2 separate regions of the Homo sapiens genome follow, and region 1 is linked to region 2. The links come from fine-mapping of genetic effects on plasma protein levels. Region 2 holds a variant in brackets. A gene starts in the other region. All regions are shown on their reverse strands.

The links. A credible set is the group of variants that fine-mapping cannot tell apart. PIP is the chance, under the fine-mapping model, that this variant and not a neighbour inherited with it causes the effect. The UK Biobank Pharma Proteomics Project read protein levels with antibody pairs (Olink). The fine-mapping took linkage between variants from a reference panel, not from the people measured, so its PIPs are less certain.
Region 1: it holds the start of LAMA4, and the variant in region 2 is the best candidate, but not a certain one, in a credible set for the plasma level of the LAMA4 protein (UK Biobank, PIP 0.76).

The regions. Positions count from the first base shown.
Region 1 is chr6:112,248,198-112,264,089 of GRCh38, reverse strand. LAMA4 (laminin subunit alpha 4) reads left to right here and starts at 9,523. Exons shown (of 39, transcript NM_001105206.3): 1 at 9,523-9,631; 2 at 9,799-10,134. The coding sequence starts at 9,940. The region is part of intron 2 of LAMA4-AS1 (LAMA4 antisense RNA 1); the gene reads right to left.
Region 2 is chr12:7,476,074-7,490,464 of GRCh38, reverse strand. CD163 (CD163 molecule) reads left to right here. Exons shown (of 17, transcript NM_203416.4): 7 at 2,378-2,692; 8 at 2,792-3,106; 9 at 3,479-3,571; 10 at 3,652-3,966; 11 at 5,049-5,369; 12 at 6,790-7,098; 13 at 7,461-7,499; 14 at 7,703-7,822; 15 at 9,209-9,304; 16 at 10,552-10,605. The coding sequence ends at 10,574. Among named protein-coding and RNA genes, the nearest start is that of CD163, 21 kb to the left of the region's middle. The variant C/T (reference allele first, on the strand shown) is at 5,292.

The DNA.
Region 1 (15,892 bases), not on the chromosome of region 2:
TTTTTGTATTTTTAGTAGAGACCAGTTTTCGCCATGTTGGCCAAGCTGGTCTCGAACTCCTGACCTCAAGTGATCCACCCACCTTGGCCTCCCAAATTGCTGGGAACACAGGTGTGAGCTGCTGCACCTGGCCCTGATGACCTAATTTAAAATACTTTCATCCCACTTTTCTCAGCTTACATGCTCTACCACCCCCACCCCCACTCTGCTCTATTTTTCTCCAAAGTATTTACCATGTGACCTACTATACATTTATCTTGTCTGATTGTTTATTCTTTAGCTGTCTTCTACCTTGCTTCAGTTAGATGTAAACTCCATGAAGGCAGGAATTTTTGTCTGATTTCTTCTTTGCTATGGAGCCTAGAAAAATGCAGGTTGCAAAGTAGACATTTGAAAAATATTTGTTGAATGAATGGATGGTGAATGGATGGTGAATTGATGTTGAATGAATGGATGGTGAATTTAACATCTTATTTCGATTATTAAATACTCAAGGAATAAGGGATGTGGTGGACTGTGATATAGGAATCTTTCTCCTAAAAGTCTGAGTCTATGCTTGGCATTTAAAGCCAGATCAGTCTCACTTGTAGAAGAAGAAAGAACTATATATCAATTTCAAATCATAAGGCACTGTGAAAATTTGAAGCACTATTATGGTTATGCCCTCCCTACTTCCAAAGTTTCTTCTGAAGTCAGTTGATATCCTAAAGTGAGCATGTCCAGCATGCATTTTCCATTATAGAGCTTTTGAGTTAAAATCTCACAGACTAGTTTCTGCAGCTGCTCACACAGAGCAGGTTAGAACAGATTTTAACATTTCATTCTGTGTATCTTCCCACCATGCTGACAGCAATCCTGTTCTTAACGGATAGTTCCTTTGTGGTACTGGGAGTGGGGGTGGATGTACGGACACAAAAGTCAGTTTCTTAGGCCTCCTTTTTTGAAAGTTGTTCCATTCTTCTTAATTATATCATTTCATTAACAGGTCCCAGGAGCTCCTATGTTATATTGATCTCATCAACTGAGCTAATTGATGTTGACACCTGCTGTTCTCTATTGAAAACATTACCGGGAGCATCCATCACTTTCCTTTATTGCTGATGAAGTAATTATCCTATTAGACCTAAAGGAATGGCCACAGCAGAGGCTGGTCAATAATCCTTGTTAGGACCATGCTCTCATCTGTTTGTTTCACTCTCCATCAGGCCAACCCAATCATTGCTACTATCATCCCCAAAAGCTTCCTGAGTCCCCAGTTCATGAGTATAGTCCCTGCCCTTGGGGTTAACAGAGCTTGCATGAGAAGCAAGGGCTTTCCCAGCCTCCTAACTGGTCTCTTAGCACTGTCCTCAATTCCAGGCCCCATCCACACCAGGAGGTCTTCCCAAAATTCAAATCTGAACACTGCAAGCTATTCATGGTAACATACTGGAGTTACACTGACATGGAGAAAAAGTTGAAATATATTATGTACAGTTGGATTCATTTTTGCAAAAAAAAAAAAATAGATGGAATAGACAAAATGAATACGTACAAAACATATATATAATATATAATAAAATATATAAAATATAAAAATAGATGGGTCACATTAATATAGATGTCACAAAAGTCTGAAGGTATTTACACCAAAACGTTTTCAGTGTTGTAAGTTATTGCCCCAGAATAGTATGATTTCTGGTAACTATTATTTCCACCTTTTGTGATACATGTAATTTCTTTTCCTTTTTTTCTTTCTTTCTTTTTTTTTTTTTTTTTGAGACGGAGTCTCGCTCTGTCGCTCAGGCTGGAGTGCAGTGGCATGATCTTGGCTCACTGCAGCCTCCACATCCCAGGTTCAAGTGATTCTCCTGCCTCAGCCTCGCTGAGTAGCTGGGACTACAGGTGCATGCCACCACGCCCAGCTAATTTTTGTATAAAATTTTAAATGTACCAGATAAAGTAATTATAGTAAAATTAAAAATTACATATATTAGAAAATTAGCTGGGCATGGTGGCGTGTGCCCGTAATCCCAGCTACTTGGGAGGCTGAGGCAGGAGAATCACTAGAACCTAGGAGGCAGAGGCTACAGCCAGCTGAGATTGCGCCAGGCAACAGAGCAAGACTCTGTCTCAAAACAAAAAAAATAAAGTTAATGCAAATATGATCATGTCATTTCTACACTTAAATTTATTCACCTAAAAAACAGTGAAGACAATTTTATGGTAAGATCAGTCAGAGATGCAAGCACCAGCTCTCCCCCACCCTGTACCCTAACTGGTACCCAATGGTAGGAATGAAACGTTTAAGAGGGACAGTGTCTCTTTTTCTGCTGATTCTCCTCTCAGATGGAGATTCTCTTTTATGACTGACTTTGGTGGAAGTTCAGGCTGTTTGAGGTGCAACAGCACAGCAAGGGTGCTAGGAGAGGCATGGAGGCCTTTTAAAAGTTGTTCTTTCTCCCATCAGTTTTATTGGGTTTTTGCTCAGGGTGTAAATACTAGGCCTAACAGCTCCCAGTGTTCAGATTTGCAATGGGGAAGGATCCTCTGTTACTTACTGGGCCTGGATTGGTGTGCAGTGCTGAGAGAGCAGTAGGAGGCTGGGGAAGTTCTTTCTTTTCCTGCAGGCTCTGTGGGCCTGACAGCAGGGACGGTACCCTGTGAACGGTTGGCGGGGCTCAGAGAGCAACTAGAAATCATATGGCTTTCTCACCCTCCCATGGCATCATGTTCCCTGATGTGTCTGTTCCTCTGGTTTATTTTATTTTAGTTTTTTAAGACAAGCTCTCACTCTGTCACCCAGGCTGTAGTACAGTGGTGCGATCTCACAGCGGCCTTGACTTCCCAGGTTCAGGTGATCCTCCCACCTCAGTCTCTCGTGTAGCTGGGACTACAGGCACATAGCACCATGCCTGGCTAATATTTGGGGTTTTTGTTTTTTGGTTTTTTTTTGTTTTTTGTTCTTGTAGATATGGGGTCTCACCATGTTGCCTAGGCTGGTCTCAAACTTCTGGGCTCAGGTGATCCGCCGCCTGAGCCTCCCAAAATACTGGAATTACAGGCATGAGCCACTGTGCCCAGACTTGTCTGTCCTTCTGCATCTGCACTTCACTTCTGGAGCACCATCCTTCCCCTTCTCCCATCAGTTCAGACTCAGCCCGGTTGCTCTCTTCTTCTCAAGCCTCTCTGACTTCCCCTGGGTAAAAGGCTTGTTTGATATATTTTATCAGAAGCCTTTCTGCACTTCCTATTTGAAGTGCATCTGGATAAAAGGCTTGTTCGATATGTTTTATCAGAAGCATTTCTGCACTTTCTCTTTGAACTCCTGTTAATCATTGCATTCCTTACAGAGTCCAACCAGACTCTTAAAAAACTCCTTGACAGTCAGCTGGGCGTGGTGGCTCACGCCTATAATCCCAGCACTTTGGGAGGCCAAGGCAGGAGGATCACCTGAGGTTAGGAGTTCGAGCCCAGCCTCTGGTCAACATGGTGAAACCCTGTTTCTACTAAAAAATACAAAATTTAGCCGGGTGTGGTGGCATGCGCCTGTAATCCCAGCTACTCGGGAAACTGAGGCAGGAGAATCTCTTGAGCCTGGGAGGTGGAGGTTGCAGTGAGCCTAGATTGCACCACTGCACTCCAGCCTGGGCAAGAGTGAGACTCTGTCTCAAAACAAATAAATAAATAAATAAATATTTTTTTAACACACTTGACAGAATAATGTCTTTAGCATTTTATCCTCAGCATCTAAACCTGGTGTACTGAGCTACTTAACAAATGATGATTAAATAAATAATATATGAATAGATGGATGGATGAAAGAATGAATGATGAAGAATGCTGATAGCATATACTAAAAGCCAAATGAGTCTATGACTGCAGAGGAAGCATAGATAGCACATACTATTCATGTCCTGGGCAAAAGCCTGAGAAAACTAACAGAAGAAACAACAAGTTTTTTGTTTTTTGTTTTGAAATGGAATCTCACTCTTGTTGCCCAGGCTGGAGCGCAATAGCTCAACCTCGGCTCACCGCAACCTCCGCCTCTTGGGTTCCAGCGATTCTCCTGCCTCGGCCTCCCGAGTAGCTGGGATTACAGGCATGCACCACCTCACCTGGCTAATTTCGTAGTTTTAGTAGAGATGGGGTTTCTCCATGTTTGTCAGGCTGGTCTCGAACTCCCGACCTCAGGTGATCCGCCTGCCTAGGTCTCCCAGAGTGCTGAGATTACAGGCATGAGCCACCATGCCCAGCCAGGAAGAACAACTTTTAAACCCTATTCACCTCCTAGCACTCTCGCTGCTGCTCCTCCTCACAGAGACTGAACATCCACCAGAGTCGTTCATAGAAGGGAATCTTGGTCTGAGAGGACAGCAGGATCAGCAGAAAAAAAGAGACGCCATCTTACACTTTCTGGTCCTGCTACTTGAGTGCCAGTTAGAGACCTCATGGTGGGGGATAGTTCATACTTGCTTCTCTGACTCATCTCATCACAAAATTATTGTCACTAGTACACAGTCCCCACAACAATCCTCTGTCTAGTTATGTCAAGATTAGCACTTACAAGTTCAAAATAGCATCTGACGTGACTTTCTATTTACAGAAGGGCACATGGGATGTGTTAATAACACCCTCCTTAGGGCTTTGGATGCTGAGGACAGGTCTAACAGCCAAGCTCTGAAGGGGTAGGCAGCCCTGATATTTATCTGCTGATTATCACACTAGGGTCCTCAAAAGGGAATTCCAGAAGCTTCTTTTGATAAAACCTCAAAATCATCAGATCTGCTGCTGCCAGAACCAAAAATAGCTCGGCCTAGTTGGGAAAGTATTGGTCTGGGAGTTGGATGGTGTGGGGGCCCTCGTTTTGTACTAACGGGCTTAGTGTCCTTGTAGGCACTGTGAGCGTCTCTGCATGTCCGTGCTGTCTTCTATGCATTGTGGATGATGGAGCAGCACCCCTGTCATCACGGGGTAGATAGGTGTCCCGAAAACGATGACAGCCATGAAAAGACTGGGTGAACACCAAGCCTCAATCCCAGGAGGGAGAGAAAGGGAGAGCCGTGATAAGAAAGCAGCCGCACTAGAAATGCTTCCCAGTTGCCCTTGTGGCAGGAATAAAATCCTCCTACACTCAGGTGTTTGGTGGTCAAGGAGTGGCCCTTTGGTGAGGAGGTAACTCACCAAAGGTTTCTGCTGCCTTTTAACTTGCTGTAAATTAGTCAGCCGTGCTCTCTCCTCATCTGCTTGACCTATGACTCTGTGGCCCATGACTGCCTCATTCCTGGTTAATGCAAGGAAGGGCCCAGTAGCAGCCAGAAATGTGAATGGCTATTCTCAAACATGGGAGGTTACCTACACCAGGATAAATAAAATGGTTGCCTTTCCTCTTTTACAATAGTCATTTTGTTCTTCTTTAAGATTTGAAAATATAGTAAGGCAGGTCCCAGAATAACATTGTTTCTTTCAATGTTGCTTTGTCATAATATTGGTGAGAAAAAAAAAAAAATCAATTCCTGGCTGGAGCCACTGTCTGTGTGGAATTTGCAAGTTCTCACGTGAGTTTTCTCCAGGTACTTCAGTTTCCTCCCACATCTCAAAGATATCCTCGTTCCTTGGTACGTCTGCATGGTTCCAGTCTTAGTGAGTGTGGCTGTGTGTGTGTGAGCGTGCCCGGCAATGGAATGGCCTTCTGTCCAGGGTCCCCAGCTTGAACTCTGAGCTGCCAGTATGGGCTCCAGCCACCCAACACTCTGAGTTGGAAAAAGCAGGTTGGAAAATGATTGAATAATGAACAAAAATTGTTATCAAATAAAAATTCATGAAGTCTACAATAATCATACAGGCATATGACAATAAATGATGCTGCATGGAAGCGTTCAGCGAGCCCATCATATTTGTTGTTGGGTTTTTTTGAATTGCATGGTGGTAGGAGGTGCTTATAATTTTTGCTTTAAAACATTTATTCCTTGCTTTAACCCACCACCACTATGACTGCTGTCACTCACTGATTCACCAAACATTGGGTAAATAATTCTCACACTTGTTTCTATTAATCTTTCTGAAATGTACGTATAGCTCACATTTATTTTCATATTTACCATTAGAAGCATTTTGGTCTTTCTTTAGAAGTTTAGTGATGTTTTTGTGACCAGAACTATGTCATAGGAATTTAAATAAATCTTAATTATGTCAATTAGCCTAAGGTAAAATTGGCTTCATTGTATGTTGTTTTGCTTAAAGTTGCAGTTTCCAAGAACATATAGATAATGTTAAATGGGGGCTTATTGTATAATTAAATAGTATTTATTGAGCTCTGACTACATGCTAGTCTGTGTTAATGTTTATTTATATTCTTTCATTTACTACCCATAATAATTCAGTGAAAATGTTACCAGAAAGAGGTTTCAATCCAGACCCCAAGAGAAGGTTCTTGGATCTCACGCAACAAAAAATTCCAGGCGAGTCCATAGAGTTAAGTAAAGCCAAGTTTATTCAGAAAGTAAAGGAATAAAAGAATGGCTACTCCACAGGCAGAGCAGCCTCAAGGGCTGCTGATTGCCTATCTTTATGGTTATTTCTTGATTATATGCTAAACAGGGTGTGGATTATTCATGAGTTTCCTGGGAAAGGAGTCGGCAATTTCTGGGAACCTAAGGGTTCCTCCCTTTTTTAGACCATATAGGGTAACTCCCTGATGTTGCCATGGCATTTATAAGCTGTCATGGTGCTGGTGGGAGTGTATTTTAGCATGTTAGCGCAATATAATTCACGTATAATGAGCAGTGAGTCCGACCAAGGTCACCACCTTGGTTTTGTTGGGATTTGACTGCCTTCTTTACCGCATGCTGTTTTATCAGCAAGGTCTTTGTGACCTGTATCTTATGCTGATCTCCTGTCTCATCCAGTGAGTTAGAATGCCTAACCTCCTCCAAACGCAGCCCAGTAGGTCTCAGTCCTATTTTACCCAGCCCCTATTCAAGATGGAATTGCTCTAGTTGAAATGCCTATGACAAAAAGGCATCATTATGCCCATTTTACAGGGAAGGAAACTTTCAGAGGGACTAAGTTACATGCCAAGCTCCCAAAAGTACTACATGCAGACCCAGGATTTGAACCCTGTTTTATTTTATACAAAACCCATCCCCCTGCATATTATGCCATTTTGTCTCAAAAACAATAATAGTACCCACAGAAAGAAGATGAAGAGGAAGAGCTGGGAGCACATATTTAACCAAAAATAAGAAGTCCATAGGTCTTGGACGAATACACTCCTACCAGCACTGGGCAGGCAGACAGAAGAGGGCCCAGATTAAATTAAAAAGTGTGTGATTAATTGGCAGCTAGTAAAGAACAAGATGAAATCCTTCAGAAAACAAATATATGAGTTTTGGTGAGCTGAAGAGATCTGTATCTGAAGTCAGAATATTTAATATACATCATATATAATTAATATTATTATTATTTAATGTTCTTTTAAAGGGTGACTGGGTCAGTATAACTGAGCATAATCTGTTTTGTCTCAGAGTCTGGCTATCTTTTTTCCCAATATCAGTCTCTCAACTAAACCAAACATGTTTTTAACTTCTCCCACTTAATTTAGTAGGTTAACAAGTCTATGTAAAAGAAGAGTATCATAATTTAGCTTAATAGTCCCTTGCAATACTATTTTAATATTTTAAAATCAAAATATCACTTTAAAACCTATAGGAATTATTTTTGCTTCCTTTGGCTTTGGTTCTTTTGTATCATACAATTTTATCATTTAAAATCAAAGATCTTACCATCAGATTTACCTGGGCTATAGTAGTAATTTTACCACTTACCCATGGCCAAATGTGTATGACAATCCCTACTTCATGAGATTATCATAAAGATGAAATTAAATGAGACAATTTTTTTTTTTTTTTTTTTTTTTTTTTTTGAGCTGGAGTCTTTCTCTGTCACCCAGGCTGGAGTCAGTGGTAAAATCTCTGCTCACTGCAACCTCCACCTCCCGGGTTCAAGCAATTCTCCTGCCTCAGCCTCCCGAGTAGCTGGGACTACAGGCGCCTCCCACCATGCCTGGCTAAATTTTGTATTTTTAGTAGAGACGGGGTTTCACCATGTTGGCCAGGCTGGTATCGAACTCCTGACCTCATGATCCACCCACCTTGGCCTCCCAAAGTGCTGGGATTACAGGCATGAGCCACCACGCCCAGCCCTAAATGAGACAATTTATGTGATTTTTTTGCACATGGGAGGCACTCAAAAAATAAAAGTGTCCATTTCCTTCACCTCTGAATTCATACTCTTTATTTTAAAGTTGCAGTGTCGTGTATACAGATGTAAAAGAGAGCTTTGGAATCAGTGAGGCCTGGATCCAAACCCCATCTCTGCTTTCCACCAGCTGTGCGACCTTGGGCAAATGTCCTAGTCTCTCTGAACCTCACTTTCTTCTTCTGTAAAAGGAAAATAATGGTACTACTTTGCAGGAATGCTGAGGTTTACAAATAGCATATGCCAAGTATCTGGCACATGTTAGGTGCAAAATAAATGGTTTTGCTTACACTTAGATAAAATGACTTTTGTTCTATGAAATGGAGCTAATGATTAGGTTTTATGGAAAGGCTTTATTTATTTATTTTATGATTAGGTTATACAAAAATGCTTTATTTCACCTGGAAGCTTACCTGGGTGTCATTTTATGGTTGTCTCATCTGACCATTTTTAAACCATGGTTGGATCTTGTGGAAATGTTTAGAGCTCGTTATGAAGCCAATGTAAACAAAGGTACCTATCAGCTGTTGCAGACACTATCCCATCCACAGGGGCACCCCTGACATAGCTGTAGCCCAACTTCACCCTGAAGTCTTGGAAAGGTTACATGATTCAGACAGATGTAGTAGGCATGAGATTACAGGCCAAGAGGAAGAGGCCGGGGCTGTAGGCAGTATACTTGACAGGCTCATACACTGCAAGCCTTGTTCCGGGCCCCTTACAAAGCACCTCTTTAGGATGAAAACAAGATGGTCTTTGTAAATAAAAGTTCATGCATTTGGGTAATGAAGTCATTTTCCAGCGCTGCAGTGAAAGATATTCTTCTCCCAAGCCCTCTGGGTGAGGACTGGAGGGAGGAAGAGGGGTGGCCAGTGAATCTGAAGAGAAGATATTAGCACAAAGAGTGCAACAGTCTATCCCCCAGAAAAAACCCGAGAAACCTTGCTCAAGAAAGTGGGCACCCTGACCCTCTGCCTTCAGAGATCATCTACCTTTGGTTCCTGCCCTGGAATCCCTTTTCCACCCACTTTCCTGCAAACTAGCGGGGGCCACATAAAATATCTATGTAAATATAGATAAGACATCCGGTACCTTGACTACATAAATAAGAGTGGTGAGGAAGCGTCACAAAAGCTGAATATTCTTCTGGAGCCCTTGGAGGGGCTCCAAACTGAGAGGGGAGGGAAGACCGCAGGGAAAGGCGGACCTCAGTGTCTGAAAAGCCAGCTTAGAGTGGGAGGGCCTGGGAGTAGAAGGTAAAAAGGGAGTGGTGAGAATGAATGTGAGAAGGAAGCCAGGACAGCGCAGTCCCCAGTCCCGAACGGCCAGGGAGAGGAGGTGGCCTAGCGCTGGCGGGGCTCACCCCAATCCGTCTGCCTTTTGATGCCGTACTGTAAGCTCCGTCCATCTGTAGGTTCTTGAGCCAGAACCTCTGCGGGAAGGAGAAAAAGTGAAAGAGGGAGAGGGAGAGGGAGAGAGAGGGGGAGAAGGGGAGAGAGAGAGAGGGAGAGAGAGGCTGGAACTCTCCCTTACTCTCGCACTTTCCCTTTATTTCCTAAGCTGCTGGTTGCGCAGCCACCTCGGGATACTGCACACGGAGAGGAGGGAAAATAAGCGAGGCACCGCCGCACCACGCGGGAGACCTACGGAGACCCACAGCGCCCGAGCCCTGGAAGAGCACTACTGGATGTCAGCGGAGAAATGGCTTTGAGCTCAGCCTGGCGCTCGGTTCTGCCTCTGTGGCTCCTCTGGAGCGCTGCCTGCTCCCGCGCCGCGTCCGGGGACGACAACGCTTTTCCTTTTGACATTGAAGGGAGCTCAGCGGTTGGCAGGCAAGACCCGCCTGAGACGAGCGAACCCCGCGTGGCTCTGGGACGCCTGCCGCCTGCGGCCGAGGTACAGTGTCCCTGCCATTGCCACCCTGCTGGGGCACCTGCGCCCCCGCGGGCTGTGCCACACTCGTCCTTCTCTCTCTCTCCGCCTCTTTCCTCTCCCCAGTGCCTTGAGAGTTTCACCTGGGCTAGGTCAGTTCGGAAACTTGAAATAAAGAGTTTTCCTTTGTAAGTTGCATTTGGATGTTGAGAGTTGAAAGTTGAGGCTTCGGAATGTGTCTGCTCAAAGGGGTGAGAGTGCATGTGTTGGTGCTCTGAGTTCATCCGCTAGACTCTCACCGGGGACTGCAGCAGCACATCGGTGACTTCTGCCACTTGCGTGTCCCAGTAGTCATTTTGTCAAGCCACGGCACTTAACGTGTGTGCCCTGTCACTGGCTTCCTGCTCCTCTGTGCTGTTAGGACAGTGGGAACACTACTGCAGGATCTTTTTGTCTCATATTAGACAAGAAGTCTTCTGCAGCAGGGAAGGTGAGGGGGTGAGTGAGAGTGGCTGGTCATGAAAGGAGCTGTTAGACAACTGCTGAGAGGGTATCTTAAGTAGAAACGAGCCATTGTATTCCAGAAACAAGATGTTTCCATTAAAATCAAGCCTCAGGATATGCTATTGATAATATGTTTATTCAAAGAGCTGCTGTTTGAATACCTTACAATAGCTTTTAAGTTGGAAACAAAACCAGAATGTAGAGGTCTGGTAAAGGAGAATGAATCCAGAACAAGTGATTTAAGAACCCCTGAACTGAAACAGACAACAGCATGCCCATTGCATGGGACATGCTAAGAGGGAGGAAAATAAAGTCACCTAAGTTCATGGGAAAGGAAGGAGCAATTGACCTAGCAAAACAAACACCACACTCTATAGCTATGGTTACAGCAACTGTACAACTAAAACAGTTATGTGGATTGACACCATTTCTAACATCACTGATGCATGGATTATTGCTATGAATTCTGTTAATTGTTAGTACAATTATAGTTATTAATTATTGATGATTAAAAATAAGGTGCATGAACATGGTCCTTCTTCAGAGTAAGCCCTACCCACATTGCCCCAAAAAAGAGAGTGGACAGGGTCAGAATATGCCAACCTCTCACTGTGGTATAAAATGTAGCCTCCATGAAAAAGAGGGAGCATGGCTTCTGGTCAACTTCATACCCAGAAACTTGGGGAGAAGCCAGACCAGGAGGGACTTCATGCAATGGGAAGGCTTTGCTTCTCTACAGGCTTGGAATTAACCCCAGGGAAGCATTATCTCCACCTGTTGCTTTGAGCACGTAAAGTCCCTGAATGAAATGCTTAATTTTACTTAAGAGTAAAATTGGCAGATAAATTGCAGGACACTCAAATGTGAATTTCAGATAAATAATGAATGAATTTTGATCACATCCCAAATACTGCAGAGGACATATTTATATTAAAATTTGTTTTCATTGTTCATCTGAAATTCAAATTTATCCGGGCATCCTGTATTTGTATCTGTTAGGTCTAAAGAGACAAGCCATATACAACTGTTTTTTGTAACTCTCATCCCACAAAAAAAATAGGAAAGTAATTTTTTGAGTTTTAGAGAACCTTAAAATTAATGCTAAGACCCTAGGAAATTTCTTATGTGCTCATATGTTTGGTGAAATAATAGGAAGGCAGCACAGCAAAGTGTTTCAGATTGCAGGTTTTCAGTCTGATGGTCCCAAGTTGAAATTTCAAGCTCTTTGACCTTGGTCAAGTTACAGATCCCCAGACTGCAGATAAACTGATACTGACAGAATTTATTGATGCCTGCTTCATACCTCATACTTTTATTGTAATGAAATTAGATAAAATAGAGTGCTTAGCATAGTGCTTGACATAGTATAAATGCCCTATATATGCCAAGAGTTGTTACAATTGTTACTATAAAAAATGTGGATGATGATCAGATTAAAAGAAACCCTTATTTGAGAATATTCCTTAGAACCTTATGTTTATGGTTTTCTTTTACTTAATATTATTATATCTGTTTATCTATATTCTTCCAGCTGGAAAAAAAATGTCACGTAGTGAATTAAATTTGTAGTAATGTCAGAGTCTAATAGGTTCAGAATGCCAGTGGAGGCCTTCAGTTTTGAAAAACAGAAAGAAGATATTAGTCATTCCAGGAAGGTCAAAGTATATGGTGTAGAAAGGGTGAGATTGAGGTAATTATGTTCCCACTGCATAGTTTCACATAATGCCTCCAGTTAGCCTGCGGTCCCATGGCGATCCCAACGCCCCACCATCAGGTTTCCCATGCTCTTTATAGCAGTAACCAGACCTTAAACCAAATACATTCCGGAGACTTAATAACATGGTACAAACACTTTACTGGGTTGGCTCAGGAGACTGTATTTGTGTATATGTGGAGAGAGAAAGAGAACACGGACACATTATTCATGGGAGAGGTTCAATGTGTGGATGGGAAGATATTCTAAAAATACATTCTCTTTACTTGGATTTATATGAATGGTTATTCTGCAATTCTCCTTCAGAGGGAATGAAGAAAAATATTAAGGCAAGCATGGAGCAGTGGGAGGTGCTTGGCTGAAGGCCTTCCTGAGGTTCTCCTAAGCTCTTCAATAGCCCAGCTTGTGGACTCTCCATCCCTGAGTACTTGGCCCAAGACACAAACTCTGGCATGCTGTATTGCTCCATGTGAGCTGGGGAACAAATACATGAAATATGCACGGAATAAAAGGATAGAGATTGTTGGCTGACCAAAAAGGAAGTCTCCTCTTTTCCTTGTAAAACAAGCCAAAGCTTCCCCCCAGATGCAAAGTATTTGAAAAGAAGAGCACCTGTGGGTAACTCCGTACTAGTTGTGGGGAGGATTTTCCCACCTTTGCTTCTTGACACTTAATCTACTGAGTCCTTTATTGCTGAGTTTATGGTGAGAACAGTGATTCTCAACAGGTGATTCTCAAAAGGGAAGACTGGGCAGTTTCAATAATGATAATCAGTATTCTAATATTTCACATTAAGGAAAAGAAAGTCTATTCATTCCACCACACACACTATAGCAGGAAAAACTAGGCCAAACTCTTCTTGACCAATATAGATATGGTAGATATGGAAAAGAACTGGTGTGGGGGCAGGAATGAAGATGGGAACACCCCCACAAGAAGCCAGTAACAGAATGTCCTTAGGAAGAATGAGATTCTTGTCCATCAAAAAGAAGTAGGAACTAAACAAGGTCAAGAACATGAGGTTGGAGGTTACATTGTGTGGCTGGAAAGAAGCCACACAGAGACTGAGAAACTGAGAAGGCAAGGACTCTTCTGACAGGGCAAGGTGGAAGGTGGTGGAGGAGGTGACGGTGCTATTACTGGCTTTCACAGATAAATGATAGAATAAGGGATACAATTGACAACATTGAGTTGTCAATGAGTTGCCCCTCAGAGGGGAAAAGAGGAATTTCTCTCCTAGAAACCTCAGTTTTGCTATTGTTGTCATTATTGTTGTGTTAACTTCACTCCAAGAAGATCAGTGCCCATGAACATACCTTACACTGGAAAAACTGACTTGCTAAAAAGAAACTCTATAAAGCAGACTAACTCTGAGGGACTTTTCCTCTTGACTTTTTTCCTTGTTGATACGTGACCCCATGTCCCAGCACATTGTTAGGGTCCTGCCATTAAAAGATTGCAGAATGTTTAATAAAAACATTTTAGATCTCTTTAACCATCTGCTTTCTTTTTTCTTATCTTGGTCACTTGCTTTGAAAAAGGTCCCTTGAGATCACACTAAGACCTCCAGTTGCTAGCCTGGGTTATCACTCTACATTGCTGTTCCAACAATTCAATTAGGTAATCTGAACCCCTTACATGCAGTCATTATTTCATTCATTTATTCACCCAACAAGCTGGTTTGGAGCCTTACCTCGAAAGAGCAATAAAATAGGTACAAGGAGCAATAGAAAGAAGGTATAGTCTCATCTTTGCCCTCAGGGGTGAGCAATTGAAGAGAGAAAAAAAATAAGTGGCCATTATATACAGAACAATGTACTAACATTCTATAAGAGTGGCTACAAGGTAAGTGCCATGGAGGTAATGTGAAAAAAGTATTATTCCTGTGCTAGACCAGTAGGGCACAAAACTTACTTGCCAAACACCAAAATAGGCTTCAAAAACCTTATTTTAGAAGAACTGGAATATAGCAGTGGTGGTAATAGCAATAATAGTATGGCTCATAGCTGATACTCGTTGAGTACTTACCACATGCCGATACTGATGTAAACACTTCCCATGAGTAATTTCCAGTAACTTTCATGACAAATCAATGTGACTGGTATCGTTATTATCTCATTTGATACACATAGAAACCGAGGCACAGAGCATTTGCCCAGGCCCCTGCTTGTAAGCAGCACAGCTAGGAAGGAGTTTATAAAAGCAGTTCAACTGTGCAAAAGTAGCTAGGAAGAGGTGATTAGGTAAATAGAAATATATATAGGAATACTTCTAGTCAAAGTTTTGGGAATTCCTTTTTTTTTTTTTTTTTTTTTTTTTTGAAACAGAGTCTTGCTCTATTGCCTGTCTGGAGTGCAGTGGCTTGATCTCAGCTCACTGCAACCCCTGCCTCCTGAGTTAAAGCGATTCCCCTGCCTCAGCCTCCCAAGTAGCTGGGATTACAGGCACATGCCACAACGCCCAACTAATTTTTCGTATTTTAGTAGAGACAGGGTTTCACCATGTTGGCCAAGATAGTCTCTATCACCTGACCTTATGATCCACCCGCCTCGGCCTCCCAAAGTGCTGGGATTACAGGCGTGAGCCACCGCACCCTGCTGGGAATTTCTTTAAATGAAGAAATATAAAATGCAATTTAAAGACCATTTTTGCAGTGCTTGTTAGATGAGTAGCATAAGTTACAAAAAGTTGAGATAACTTCCCTTCTCCGTCTAGCCTAATGACTACTTTTTAAAACTACTCACGTAAGAAAGAAAAAAACTAATACTTGTTGACTTCTACTATGTCCCATCAACCTCCATGAATTGTCTTAATACTAAATAGTGAAAATTATACCCATTTTACAGATGAGTTCATTGACATTTAAGAGTGGTAATTACCTTAACCAAATTTTCATATTCCTTTCTCTGCTTTCTGTATACCAGGGAGTCTTCCTGATAGAGCACTTTTTTTTTCAACTATAGAGTCTCCTTATCCTATTTTCTCTTTATAATGATATTCTAGGGTGTGTCCTCCACGTGATGCTACAGTCTATCTTAAAAGCTGTTGATTTAGATTAATAAGTAGGAAATTCATAACAGTATTACCTATGGAATACCTGGTCTATGTTATGGAATTTATTATAACATTGCTAAAAAGTAAAGAATTCCATTCCCTAGTGTTCCAGGGTTCTCTGATTTAACCAGAGGAAGTCTTTTCTTTTAACATGATAAAATAAAAATAACAGAAACTTTGCCATTTGAACTTTTTTTTTTTTTTTTTTTGAGACAGAGTCTCCCTCTGTCACCCAGGCTGGAGTACAGTGGTGCTATCTTGGCTCGCTGCAACCTCTGCCTCCCGGGTTCAAGCAATTCTCCTGCATCAGCCTCCCGAGTAGCTGGGACTACAAGCGTGTGCCACCATGCCTGGCTAATTTTTTGTATTTTTAGTAGAGACGGGTTTCACCGTGTTAGCCAGGATGGTCTCAATCTCCTGACCTTGTGATCTGCCTGCCTCGGCCTCCCAAAGTGCTGGGATTACAGGCATGAGCCACTGCACCTGGCCATTTGAACTATTTTTAAGGGC
Region 2 (14,391 bases):
TAAGTACTTTATATTGCCTCTGAGTATTTTCAAAGAAACTCACTTATCTTGATGATTGTGTTTCTTAACTTGACAAAGAGCATCTTCATAATATAAATTCCATTTATTATTTCTGGTGTGTCTTTTCTTTATATTTTAAATTTCAGCTACAGTAAGTTACTTATAATTCTTCAATGACACCATGCATTTCGTGACCATATTCCTTAAAGATTGTTTCACACACTGTGTATTTGGCAAACTCCTCATCTTTTTTCAAGATCCAGTTTAGATCTATGTTATTCTCTCCCCCATAGTCTAAAACAGAGTGAATGACTCCTTTATTTGTTAGTTTTATGTCTAATACATATTTCTATTTTTGGGTTCATCACTATTAAAATATGTATATCTTGTAGTGAACTGTGTTCATGGAGGAGAAGGCTATTAGTGAGAAATTGAACAGCCTTGAAAAGAAGTAGCCTTTTCCTAGGTATATAAGGTAGGGAAATAAATTTTAAGTAGAGAGAAAAGTTTCTACAGAGGCACAGAAGCATGAAAATTACGGCATGCCCAAGCATCTTTAGGCTGGAGCATCAAATTAGGTTGATAAAGTAATAGATATTAAAGCTTTTAAGGTAACAGCATACTATTTTAAAGTGTACTAAAGAATTAGTGTTTATCACCTCTCCTTAATTTTAATAGCTGGACGAAATTAGGGAATCTATGAAAACTGTTTGTGCTGCAGTTTGCTCAGAAGAAAAATGGGAGTGGTAATAGGGCCTACCTCACAGGAATTACACAGTGAGCTATAAATACATGTTAGCTAATATGATTATGATTATTATTTTTAGTATTATCTATCTTCACTGACAGACTGAATTCTGTGGCGGCCTTTTTAACCCACCCATCATCAAATGCCTAAAATAGAGTCAGAGAACATTACAGGTTGTTACATTATAGGTCATTACATTGATACTTTTGGATTAATTATTGCATACATGATTATTACAGAAATTATAAGAAATTATGTAAGGGATCATTGCATACATTTTAAGGAAACGTTAAGTCATCTAAAGGAAAAACATCACATGAAAATATTTGAAATTTATTAATATATTTATAATCATGGCATAAATTTCTTGGAAAAAAGACTTTGAAGCAAGGAAACAATTTACGAAGCTATTGTAGAGGTCTGCATGACAGATGATGACAAATCACTTTATGGCAATAGCAACAAATATGCAGAAGAAGAAATATGCTGGAGGACCAACAGATATGGTGGTTTTCTACATGTTCAATGTATCATGAAAGTCAACATTCTAGGCTCTGGAATATACTGTCTGGCTTCAAATTCTGTTCTCTTACTAATTCTGTAGTAATTTCTTGTGTGACCTTAGCAAATTACTACACCTCACCTCTCTATGTTTCAGATTCCCTGTCTGTAAAATCAGAATGATATTAACAATTATCTCCTAAGGCAATTTTAAGGATTGAATGAAATAATGTTTGTTAAATGCTTATTGGAATGCCATATATGTAATATAATAGACGCTCACTTAATATTCACTGCTATCATTATTACCATTATTTGTGGTGAGATAAAGTGGGTCAATTTTAGGTGGTTCTAATTTGGCCTGTATATCATTAATTAAGTAAAGAATATAGTGGGCTTGTCATACAATAATTCATTCAACTTTGAATACTTTAAGCTCCACATGTCTAAGCAGATACGTTTGTGGATCTAAAATTAAAGAAAAAAGTATGGATGAAAATATATTTATTAGCAGTTGAGACATGTCCATTGAGCAGATGAGAAGGTTACGGACAGAACTTTGACTCAAGGAATACACGAAATGTTTTGATAAAGCACTGTCAGAAAGAATGGAGGAGAAAATGGGACAAGAAGGGTCACGTATACCAAACGTAACAGACGTCAAAAGGAAGAAGTCTGATGTTCATTCTGAAAATTAGAAGTATATTGAAAAGCTTTACATAGAACAATTCAAAAAGGTTGAGCAGACCCCAGATTGCAGTACATGGAGGAATGAGTGCAAGACTAAGAGATAGCGATAGTAGATACACATTGTTTGTGGTCTCTAATGTTATTATGAATAAAGTAAGCAAAATTTTGGAAGAACAGAGTTATCATTGCCTTTGGGGATGGTTGGCTGCACAAGGTGAAGTCCCAGAATTCTCTCAGATGGATGAGTTCAGCTAGGAATGGGGAGGTCTAGATTTATCCATACCCAACTCGAGGCAGAAAAGCCAAGACAAACAAGTGTAGGAAATCACTGAGCACCCTGGTCTCCATTTCCCACTCCACACCACCTTCTTCACCCTCATCATGAATGGAAATCTGGAAATCATATTACCTCTCACTGAAATAATATTTATTTTTCAGCCCACAGGGAACCCAGACTGGTTGGAGGGGACATTCCCTGTTCTGGACGTGTTGAAGTGAAGCATGGTGACACGTGGGGCTCCATCTGTGATTCGGACTTCTCTCTGGAAGCTGCCAGCGTTCTATGCAGGGAATTACAGTGTGGCACAGTTGTCTCTATCCTGGGGGGAGCTCACTTTGGAGAGGGAAATGGACAGATCTGGGCTGAAGAATTCCAGTGTGAGGGACATGAGTCCCATCTTTCACTCTGCCCAGTAGCACCCCGCCCAGAAGGAACTTGTAGCCACAGCAGGGATGTTGGAGTAGTCTGCTCAAGTAAGACCCAGAAAACATCTTTAATTGGTTCTCATACTGTGAAAGGGACAGGGTTAGGGAGTCATAGCTGTCTTTTTCTAAAGCCCTGTCTCCTTCCAGGATACACAGAAATTCGCTTGGTGAATGGCAAGACCCCGTGTGAGGGCAGAGTGGAGCTCAAAACGCTTGGTGCCTGGGGATCCCTCTGTAACTCTCACTGGGACATAGAAGATGCCCATGTTCTTTGCCAGCAGCTTAAATGTGGAGTTGCCCTTTCTACCCCAGGAGGAGCACGTTTTGGAAAAGGAAATGGTCAGATCTGGAGGCATATGTTTCACTGCACTGGGACTGAGCAGCACATGGGAGATTGTCCTGTAACTGCTCTAGGTGCTTCATTATGTCCTTCAGAGCAAGTGGCCTCTGTAATCTGCTCAGGTAAGAGGATGACGGGCAGCCAGTGATGGGTCTTAAGAGAAGGTGTACATAGGGATGAAGAACAAAAGTAAAACGCAGTGATCCATTTTGAAGGGTCATGAGAAGAATGAATACTAATTCATGCTTCAGAATATTAACCTCATTTGTCTTTTCAGAGGGTGAGCAAACCTAATTTTGATGGACTTCTTAGTTATCCAGTGCTTACTATGTGCCAAGCCCATCTCAAAGCACCTGATTTATTTCAAACTTGTTGACCATCCACCTTCCCCTCTCTCTCTAAGCTATGTTTGTCCTCAACTCATCCATATAACATTTCATCTGACTCCCCTAACCTTTTGTGTCTTGTATGACTGAGTACCTTGGTGTTTGCAGGAAACCAGTCCCAAACACTGTCCTCGTGCAATTCATCGTCTTTGGGCCCAACAAGGCCTACCATTCCAGAAGAAAGTGCTGTGGCCTGCATAGGTAAGACTCTGTGACAAATCTATGAAAATATTAATAACAAGTGGAATGCTCATTATTAATAGTTTCATTTCTCTTTGCAGAGAGTGGTCAACTTCGCCTGGTAAATGGAGGAGGTCGCTGTGCTGGGAGAGTAGAGATCTATCATGAGGGCTCCTGGGGCACCATCTGTGATGACAGCTGGGACCTGAGTGATGCCCACGTGGTTTGCAGACAGCTGGGCTGTGGAGAGGCCATTAATGCCACTGGTTCTGCTCATTTTGGGGAAGGAACAGGGCCCATCTGGCTGGATGAGATGAAATGCAATGGAAAAGAATCCCGCATTTGGCAGTGCCATTCACACGGCTGGGGGCAGCAAAATTGCAGGCACAAGGAGGATGCGGGAGTTATCTGCTCAGGTAAATTATGCATATGACCTTTGGTCATAATTACATAGAGAAAGGACTGAGGAAGGGTAGTGAGGGGTATTAATCTTAAAGATTTTCCTGAAAAGTTGATCCAAAAGGAACTATTGTGGGAGTCAGGACAACAGAAGTCTGGGTTTGATGTGCTAGTGGTACTTCATGAGCAAGGTAGTGCAACATTGTAAAGAGAAAAGACCAGAAATGGTCTTGTATATCATGAAAATGACAACAAAGTTAATAATGAAGGTTTTTAATAAATATATTTGGGGCCAGATATTAGATAGCGATCCAATAGCAACACTTGATAATTACAGTATTAGTAAAGAAGTAGATTTAAAGGGACAAGAAGAAATATATATGTTGCATCATTCTACAGAAAAAAAGATAATTACTATGCCCAAGCAATTTTTCATGGCAGATAAATGAGACTTACTTGTCATAGAAACAAAAAGTAGCATGAGGTTACTGCCCTCATACTGCTTTGTATACATGGTGAGTTTTAGAAAACATTCTGAAATTTAAAAATGTACTATTTCATATGTATTATGGGGAACAGAACTATGATTCAGTAACTTAAGGAAGTGAAAAACTCTGTATCTCAGAAGTGATTTATTCCTATTTTAATGACATAAATCTGGTAGAAGACATGCACTGCAAAACTGTGAAGTGTCAGCAAATGAACTGTCATTTTAAGAGATGTACACAAAACATTGATTTTAGTGCCTGAGTGTCTAACAATTTTAACTATCAAAGACAGTTGCAAAAAAAGGAGAATATTTTTGGGAAAAAATCCAAACTATGTAACTGAAAAAAGCCTATTAGAATGATTGAGGGTAATCTAAAGAGGACTCTGAGTCCAAAACCAAAGACCAAAAAACTATAATGTATTTATAGAATAAATAAAATATTTTAATAATATCTATGAAATCATCCAGAAGTTACTAACGAATTATTAGTAACTGACATATTGTACTATTGTACCTATTTTTAAAGCCATTCTTACATCAAGGTAAAGGGAAGGAGTCTCTGAATCTTCAGAAAAGATGCAAAACTACTAATTCTATGTTTCGCTGCAGAATTCATGTCTCTGAGACTGACCAGTGAAGCCAGCAGAGAGGCCTGTGCAGGGCGTCTGGAAGTTTTTTACAATGGAGCTTGGGGCACTGTTGGCAAGAGTAGCATGTCTGAAACCACTGTGGGTGTGGTGTGCAGGCAGCTGGGCTGTGCAGACAAAGGGAAAATCAACCCTGCATCTTTAGACAAGGCCATGTCCATTCCCATGTGGGTGGACAATGTTCAGTGTCCAAAAGGACCTGACA[C/T]GCTGTGGCAGTGCCCATCATCTCCATGGGAGAAGAGACTGGCCAGCCCCTCGGAGGAGACCTGGATCACATGTGACAGTGAGTATCCATCGACCTATATGAAAATTCCATTCTGCAGCCCCGCTATCATCTTCTGATAATGGACACTGGATTTTATTTTCCTATTCTCACACTGGCTTAAATTGTTAGATTGAATTAAGCAAGAATGGGTAACTTGTGGGTAATATCTATTCTACCTGGATAGTGTAACTGGTTTTATTTAATTTGGCCTGTAGATATTCAGGATCAGCTATTATTATTCTAAAGAATATCATACTCCCCATGGTCTGCTTGAAAGATTTATTCAATTGCTTTCTCTGAGGAGGAGAGAATATGTGGTTTAATATTTGACTGTTGAATGGTCTACCTTACCTTCCCATTTTTCTTTCAAATATTATCTTGTTACACTAATATAAGGAGAAAAGCAGTCAGAAATCAGAAAGATCAATTCTGAAGTATTTCCACATTCTACAGGTTTTTTTTTTTTTTTTTTTTGAGACAGAGTTTTGCTCTTGTTCCCCAGGCTGGAGTGCAATGGCGTGATCTTGGCTCACTGCAACCTCTGCCTTCTTGGTTCAAGCAATTCTCCTGCTCCAGCCTCCTGAGTAGCTGGGATTACAGGCATGAGCCACCATGCCCAGCTAATTTTGTATTTTTAGTTGAGATGGGGTTTCCCCATGTTGGCCAGGCTGGTCTTGAACTTCTGACCTCAGGTGATCCACCCGCCTTGGCCTCCCAAATTGCTGGGATTACAGGTGTGAGCCACTGTGCCTGGCCTCTACATCTTCTTAAACTGTGAGATTTGTGACAACCTGCCAGTTTCCCAAGATCTTGCCTATTTGAAAGAATTTGACATCACATATTTATAATGTTAACTTTAATCATTTAACATTTACTGGGTCACATTATGTATCTTATGTGCAGGATGGAATATACCTAGTTGGCTGTAATGACAAGTCCTCTTATAAAAGATAAATTTTGTAAAAATATAAATTTTAGGCCAGGCACGGTGGCTCACGCCTGTAATCGGACTTTGGGAGTCCGAGGTGGGCGGATCACGAGGTCAGGAGATCGAGACCATCCTGGCTAACATGGTGAAACCCCGTCTCTACTAAAAATACAAAAAATTAGCCGGGTGTGGTGGTGGGCGCCTGTAGTCCCAGCTACTTGGGAGGCTGAGGCAGGAGAATGGTGTGAACCTGGGAGGCGGAGCTTGCAGTGAGCCGAGATTGTGCCACTGCACTCCAGCCTGGGTGACAGAGCGAGACTCTGTCTCAAAAAAAAAAAAAAAAATATATATATATATATACATATATATATATAAATTTTAATATGCACATTCAGTAAAATTTTAAATAGTTTTTTTTTTTTTTTAAGTTTCAAATCTCTCTTTTCACCTGTGAACTCCTGGAAACTTTTAGAAGTCTTAGAAATAGGCTACATGTCTCTGATTTTTCAGACAAGATAAGACTTCAGGAAGGACCCACTTCCTGTTCTGGACGTGTGGAGATCTGGCATGGAGGTTCCTGGGGGACAGTGTGTGATGACTCTTGGGACTTGGACGATGCTCAGGTGGTGTGTCAACAACTTGGCTGTGGTCCAGCTTTGAAAGCATTCAAAGAAGCAGAGTTTGGTCAGGGGACTGGACCGATATGGCTCAATGAAGTGAAGTGCAAAGGGAATGAGTCTTCCTTGTGGGATTGTCCTGCCAGACGCTGGGGCCATAGTGAGTGTGGGCACAAGGAAGACGCTGCAGTGAATTGCACAGGTAAGTGCCAGAAGCCTGGATTGAGCTTGGAATCTCTGGCAGCAAAGAGGGGTTGGGCAGTGATGTGTGTTGTGTAAAAACCGGATTTATCAGCACAGGGATCTGGTGGGGATTCTCAGAGAATCATAATGTCTCTACTGAAAGAATGATGAAAACAATTGTTATACAACGGCCTTCACCAAGGAGACACATACAACCTATATTCCCTGTGCAGAGAAAGAAAGACTAGAGGACTCTAGTTTTAGGTGGGAAAGAGTCATATACTTGGTTGAGAGGTACTAAGGGGTCAGACAAGGAAATCAGAAGGCTTGTTCTATATATCATGCAAAGAATTAACCCTCTCTCTTTCTTTTCTCCTACAGATATTTCAGTGCAGAAAACCCCACAAAAAGCCACAACAGGTATATCATGGAGTTTATGATGATGAGACCAATTATCTGCATACATAGAATTTTTCTTGTTTAGAAATTTTAGGTCAGACGTTCTGAGGATTTGATATTTACCTCAGGGATCAAGTATTTGACCTAAGAGAGAATCAGTAACTAGGGACCTTGATCTTTTCGATAAGACATGATCATATCTCTTGATATTTACTTTTACTTAGGTCGCTCATCCCGTCAGTCATCCTTTATTGCAGTCGGGATCCTTGGGGTTGTTCTGTTGGCCATTTTCGTCGCATTATTCTTCTTGACTAAAAAGCGAAGACAGAGACAGCGGCTTGCAGGTTTGAGCCAAATTTGGTTTATCTAATATGTCTACAGGATAAGGGGGTTCTTGTAAGACGAAAATATTAGACTCAAGTCTAATGGCCAGAAAGATGGACTCTAAAAGAGGTTTGAGCAGTTTCTCAAAACAGAGGGAAGGGCCAGGCACAGTGGCTCACACTTGTAATCCCTACACTTTGGGAGGCTGAGGCAGGAGAATTGCTTGAGTCCAGGAGTTCAAGACCAGCCTGGGCCACACAGGGAGCTCCCATTTCTACAGATTTTTTTCATTTTTTAAATAGAGGGAATAAGATTTCAGAGGAGAAAAGGGGTTTAGGTTGCATTGATGATTCCTGTGTTCTATCTACATGCTTAACTGGAACATTACAGAATTGAAAGTTCAGAATGAATATGTTAGATATTGTTTAGGATGACTTTTTACCTAAACATTTATTTTCTCTTACTATAATCAATCTCCTTATTACAAATTTTACTGTTCTGTTGAGCAATGTATTAGGCTCTGAAGATACAGACATGGACAATAAATCTTGGTGGAACTTCAAGTCTAGTGGAAGAGATATATATGTAAACAAATACACTACAATGTAGCCATTTTACATTAATAGGAAAAAGGAACAAAAGTGGCACAGAGAAGGGAGTAATTAACTGAAAGGGGAGGGGGATTACTGGAGGCTTCAAAGAGGCTTGGGGACAAATTTCGAACATAGAGGCTCAGAGAATTGGGTGAGGAACATTCTAGAGAAGAATATGTACAAGTCTAGAGAAGCCTAAAGGATGAAGCATTTCTTGTTTTTTTCCTGAGGGGCGGGGGGAGAAAAGTTGAGTGTGAGGAGAGAGGCTGCTAAGTCTGAAGAAGAGAAAAGGCACAAATTATGAAGTTCTTATGTTTCACATAAGATTCATAGTCATTAAAGAGTATCATGTAGGGGAGTGAAATGGTCAAGATATCTTTTAGGAAGATCTTTTGGCAACGGGATCTAGGAGGATTGAAGGAGGACCACTTGACTGACAGGAATGGCATTTTGTAACAGTTGAGGTGAAAAATGAAAAGTACTATAACATATATAGTGAGAATGGAGGGGAGAGGAAAGACTTTTAGAGATACTTAAGAAAAGCTCCAGTGAGTTATGGAAGACTGCTGGCTTCCTTGGGTAAAAACAGTGGGTTGTTTATATTAATACAATGGCAGTGGGGAAGATTTAGCCTTGTGCCTATTTCATTTGAGTGTGCGGAATTGTAAGGGAAGAGCTTGGTAGTAGAATGGGATAGAAACAATAGCAGGGATAAAGACGAGGTATGTTTGCAGCGCTTGGAAAAAACACACTTACAGCAAGGGAAATTTTATTATGATAGCTGATCCCTAACCTAGGGATCTCTGTTTTCAGTTTCCTCAAGAGGAGAGAACTTAGTCCACCAAATTCAATACCGGGAGATGAATTCTTGCCTGAATGCAGATGATCTGGACCTAATGAATTCCTCAGGTCTGTGGGTTCTTGGAGGGTCTATTGCCCAGGGGTTCAGATCAGTGGCTGCAGTTGAGGCACAGACATTCTACTTTGATAAACAGTTAAAAAAGTCTAAAAATGTAATAGGAAGCTTAGATGCATATAATGGACAAGAATGACTGAAAATTATTCTTGGAGAATATCAAAATTGCAATCATAGGGAGGCCTTTAGCTTAAGAGGCCTGTGATTATTCCTGATAGAGGTATGGAAAGAACCATGCAGAGGAATATTATGACTTGGACCTCATTTTATTAAAACAGAAATTAATCTTACAAAAGATTGTCATAAGTGACAGTTTAACTTTTTTCTTTAAATTTTGTTGTGTATATTTAAGGTATACAACATGATTTTATGGGATGTATATAGATAGTAAAAAGCTTACTAAAGCAAAGCAAATGAACACACCCATCATCTGACATAGTTACCCTTTTTTGTGTTGTTCTTGTGGCAAGAGCAGCTAAAACCTACTCACTTAGCATGAATCCTACATACAGCACAATGTTATTACCTATAATCCTCATGTTGTACATTAGACCTCTAGACTGGTTCATTCTACGTATCTGCTACTTTGTATCCTCTGACCTACATACGTCTTTCACAGTTTCTTCCATTCCCATTTCCTGTCATTTTTTTTCTCTAGCTTGATATTTATTATATTTTTCCCTAAAAGTCTAAAACCTTAAACTTTCAATATCTTTATTGCATGAGAAGCCATACAAATCCACAGAACTAGCCTTATTTCTCATCACATCATGCTGTTTTATCCTTGAACTTCTATTTAGCACCAGTGCACTAATTCTGCATCTGGGCAGGATGACTTTACTGGGTTGGAAGAAATATCCCAAAACCCATTGTCTTTACTCCATGAAGGGTCCCTGACCTTCTGAGAGGGGCCTGCCTCACTTCTTCCATCCAAAGAATTATGCATCTGCTACTGTGTCAGGGAACATATTTAAGGAACATGTACTGTTACTGTGTCAGGAAACATATTTAAGAAATAGGAAAGACTTTCTCTGCCCCTTAAATCACACATGCTTTTCTTCCTAGTTATGGGTGGTGTTTTTAGTTGCTCAAAGAGCCTCACAGTTACGTGAGAAGAGGTCTGGTTTATTTCCCAGTAATTATTTTCTTCCTTTCAGAAAATTCCCATGAGTCAGCTGATTTCAGTGCTGCTGAACTAATTTCTGTGTCTAAATTTCTTCCTATTTCTGGAATGGAAAAGGAGGCCATTCTGAGCCACACTGAAAAGGAAAATGGGAATTTATAACCCAGTGAGGTGAGTGATGAGAATTTATTAGTCATTGTTCAAAACAGCTGCATTCCTTTTGAGGACTGAGAGCTCTTCTGGCATTAGAAAGAAAGAATGTATATAAACATATTTTATTTGCTTATGTGCATATGTTTGTATATGTATATATCTATATTGAGAATATATAAAAGCTTATAAATATAACTGATTCATCTCTTAATTATACACACAAATAGTAATAACACATCCATGGAGCTAAGGAGAAACTGAGTAAACAAATACAAATTAATCTTTTGAAGACATTACAGGTATCATTTCAGGAAAAAGATAAGACATATTATACATCTACATCGTATAATACATGCTATGGTAAAGACTGTACAAGGCACTACAGAAAGTTTGCCTAAGAAACTTTGGGGTTGTTGTAAGATGATATGATATTTAAGGTAAACTTTAAAAATAACTGAAAAATAGACAGTTCCAAAGAAAGGACACAGTATGTGCAAACTAGAGGCAGAAAAAAGAACCATGCCTTTAGGGAACTATAAGAAGTTTTTTATTCAAAAACGTATATTGAACGTATTTATGGTAACAAGTGGCACCGTGAGCACTGAAGATAGAGATAAAATCTACTATTGGCAAAGACATGATTGTTTAATAAAAGATATCATAGTCTATAGGTGGTAATATGAAGAGGCCATGTGGAGAGAAGAGAGGTGGTTAGAATCTAAGCTGAAAAGGCTGCATAGAGCCCTGTAATGAATGGTCTTACCTGCTATACTTTATGTTCTCTTTCACTGGGGGTCTGTTGAAGAGGTGATGATGAGCTTTGAAAGTTTCAGATGAGACAAGATGATTAGAATTGCATTTTACAACTTGCTTTCATGAGAAAAACATAAAAAAAAATTCAAATGTGAACAAGACGTATAGTTAAGCTATACATCAAGAGAAAAAGATTGTGAAATGAGTTACTAGATACATTTTCTGTTTTTAAAATAATAATTTGGGGAAGACTACATCTAGAAATGAAATGTAGAAAAAGTATTTTTTATAGAAATATTATATATTCCTATAATTCATCTACATATTATATATCTACATTGTATAATACATGCTATGGTAAAGACTGTACAAGACACTACAGAATATTTGTATATACGAAATATAGATTAAGACAAAGGATAAGAGTTGGAACTCTTAAAGTACATGAAATATAAATTGTGAATATCTATAAAATGCAGAGCTAATTTTACATACTATATATATACACACATAGATACATAGAGTTCTTAGAAACTGTACAGAGCACAAAAGGGTTAATATATGTGAATGTAAATTGTATGTATGTGTATGTGTAACATCTAATAGATAATTGGGCAAAGCTATGAAAAGACAATTGACACAAAATGAATTTCAAATGACAGACATTTTTAAATGTCTGGAGGATTGAAATTATAATTAACAATGAGCTATCACTTTATACAAATCAGACTAACAAAAATTTGAAATACCATCAATATTTATTACTGGCGGGAATACAGAGAAAAAGGCCATTTCAAACACTGCTTTTGGAAGTGTGAGATATGGTAGGTAGCCTTTGGAGAAAGCAATCTGGCAGTTTCTATTAAAAATTATTTTCAAAGATTCACAGACCCTTTGACCCAATAATTCTATCCCTGAGAATTTCTTCTTACCAATAAAGTCACTAGTATGTAATGACAAATATACAAAGATTCCTTTCTGCCATGTTGTTGAAAGTGGCAAAAACTAGAAACAAAGTGAATGCCAATTGATGGAGTAATGACTGGAAAAATGACGGTTTAGGCAACTAAAAAAGAAAAAATCATTATAAAATATAATAATATTCCATTTATGTATTGGCTATAATTAAATACAATGCTTACATCTATAAAATTATGCATTCATATGTGCATAAAGAAGCTAAAAATTCTAGTGTTGTAAACTGAGAACCATGAATAATATTTGATTTATAATCTGAAGCATATGAATGTTTTCTGATGTGATAAATGATAATTGAACTACTTTTCCCTGAAAGAGTAATCACTGCTGAATAACTGCTTCAGAATCACATGAGGGTGCTTTTAAAAAATGACGATTCTTTTTTTGTTTTTAATCTTTAAGTTCTGGGATACATGTGTTGAATGTGCAGGTTTGTTACATAGGTATACACGTGTCATGGTGGTTTGTTGTGCCTATCAACCCGCCATCTAGGTTTTAAGCCCTGCATGCATTAGGAGCTTAAATTTGTCTTAATGCTCTCCTTCCCCTTGCCCCCACCCCGCAGCAGGCCCCATGTGTGATGTTCCCCTCCCTGTGTCCATGTGTTCTCATTGTTCAACTCCAACTTATGAGTGAGAACATGCGGTGTTTGGTTTTCCGTTCCTGTGTTAGTTTGCTGAGAATGATGGTTTCCAGCTTCATCCATATCCCTGCAAAGGACATGAACTCATTCTTTTTTATGGCTCTATAGTATTCCATGGTGTGTATGTGCCACATTTTCTTTATCCAGTCTATCATTGATGGGCATTTAAGTTGGTTCCATGTCTTTGCTATTGTGAATAGTGCTGCAATAAACATGTGTGCCTGTGTCTTTATAGTAGAATGATTTATAATCCTTTGGGTGTATACCCAGTAATGGGATTGGTGGGTCAAATGGTATTTCTGGTTCTAGATCCTTGAGGAATTGCTACATTGTCTTCCACAATGGTTGAACTAATTTACACTCCCACCAACACTGTAAAAGCATTTCTATTTCTCCACATCCTCTCCAGCATCCGTTGTTTCCTGACTTTTTAATGATCACCATTCTAACTGGTGTGAGATGGTATCTCATTGTGGTTTTGATTTGCATTTCTCAGATGACCAATGATGATGAGCCTTTCTTCACATGTTTATTGGCCACATAAATGTCTTCTTTTGAGAAGTGTCTGTTCATATCCTTTGCCCACTTTTTGATGGGTTGTTTGTGTTTCTCTTGTAGATTTGTTAAAGTTCCTTGTAGATTCTGGTTATTAGCTCTTTGTCAGATGCCTAGATTGCAAAAATTTTCTCCCATTCTGTAGGTTGCCTGTTCACCCTGATGATAGTTTCTTTTGCTGTGTAGAAGCTATTTAGTTTAATTAGATCCCATTTGTCAATTTTTGGCTTTTGTTGCCATTGCTTTTGGTGTTTTAGTTATGAAGTCTTTGCCCATGCCTATGTACTGAATGGTACTGCCTAGGTTTTCTTCTAGGGTTTTTATGGTTTTAGGTCTTATGTTTAAGTCTTTAATCCATCTTGAGTTAATTTTTGTATACGGTGTAAGGAAGTGGTCCAGTTTCTGTTTTCTGCATATGGTTAGCCAATTTTCCCAGCGCCATTTATTGAATAGGGAATCCTTTCCTCATTGCTTGTTTTTGGCAGGTTTGTTGAAGATCAGATGGTTGTAGAGGTGTGGTGTTACTTCTGAGGCCTCTGTCCTGTGCCATTGGTCTATATATCTGTTTTGGTACCAGTACCATGCTGTTTTGATAACTGTAGACTTGCAGTAAGTTTGAAGTCAGATAGCGTGATGCTTCCAGCTCTGTTCTTTTTGCTTAGGATTGTCTTGGCTATACAGGCTCTATTTTTGTTCCATATCAAATTTAAAGTAGATTTTTCCAATTCTGTAAAGAAAGTCGATGGTAGCTTGATGAGAATAGCATTGAATCTATAAATAACTTTGGGCAGTATGGCCATTTTCACAATATTGATTCTTCCTATCTATGAGCATGGAATGTTTTTCCATTTGTTTGTGTCCTCTTTTCTTTCCTT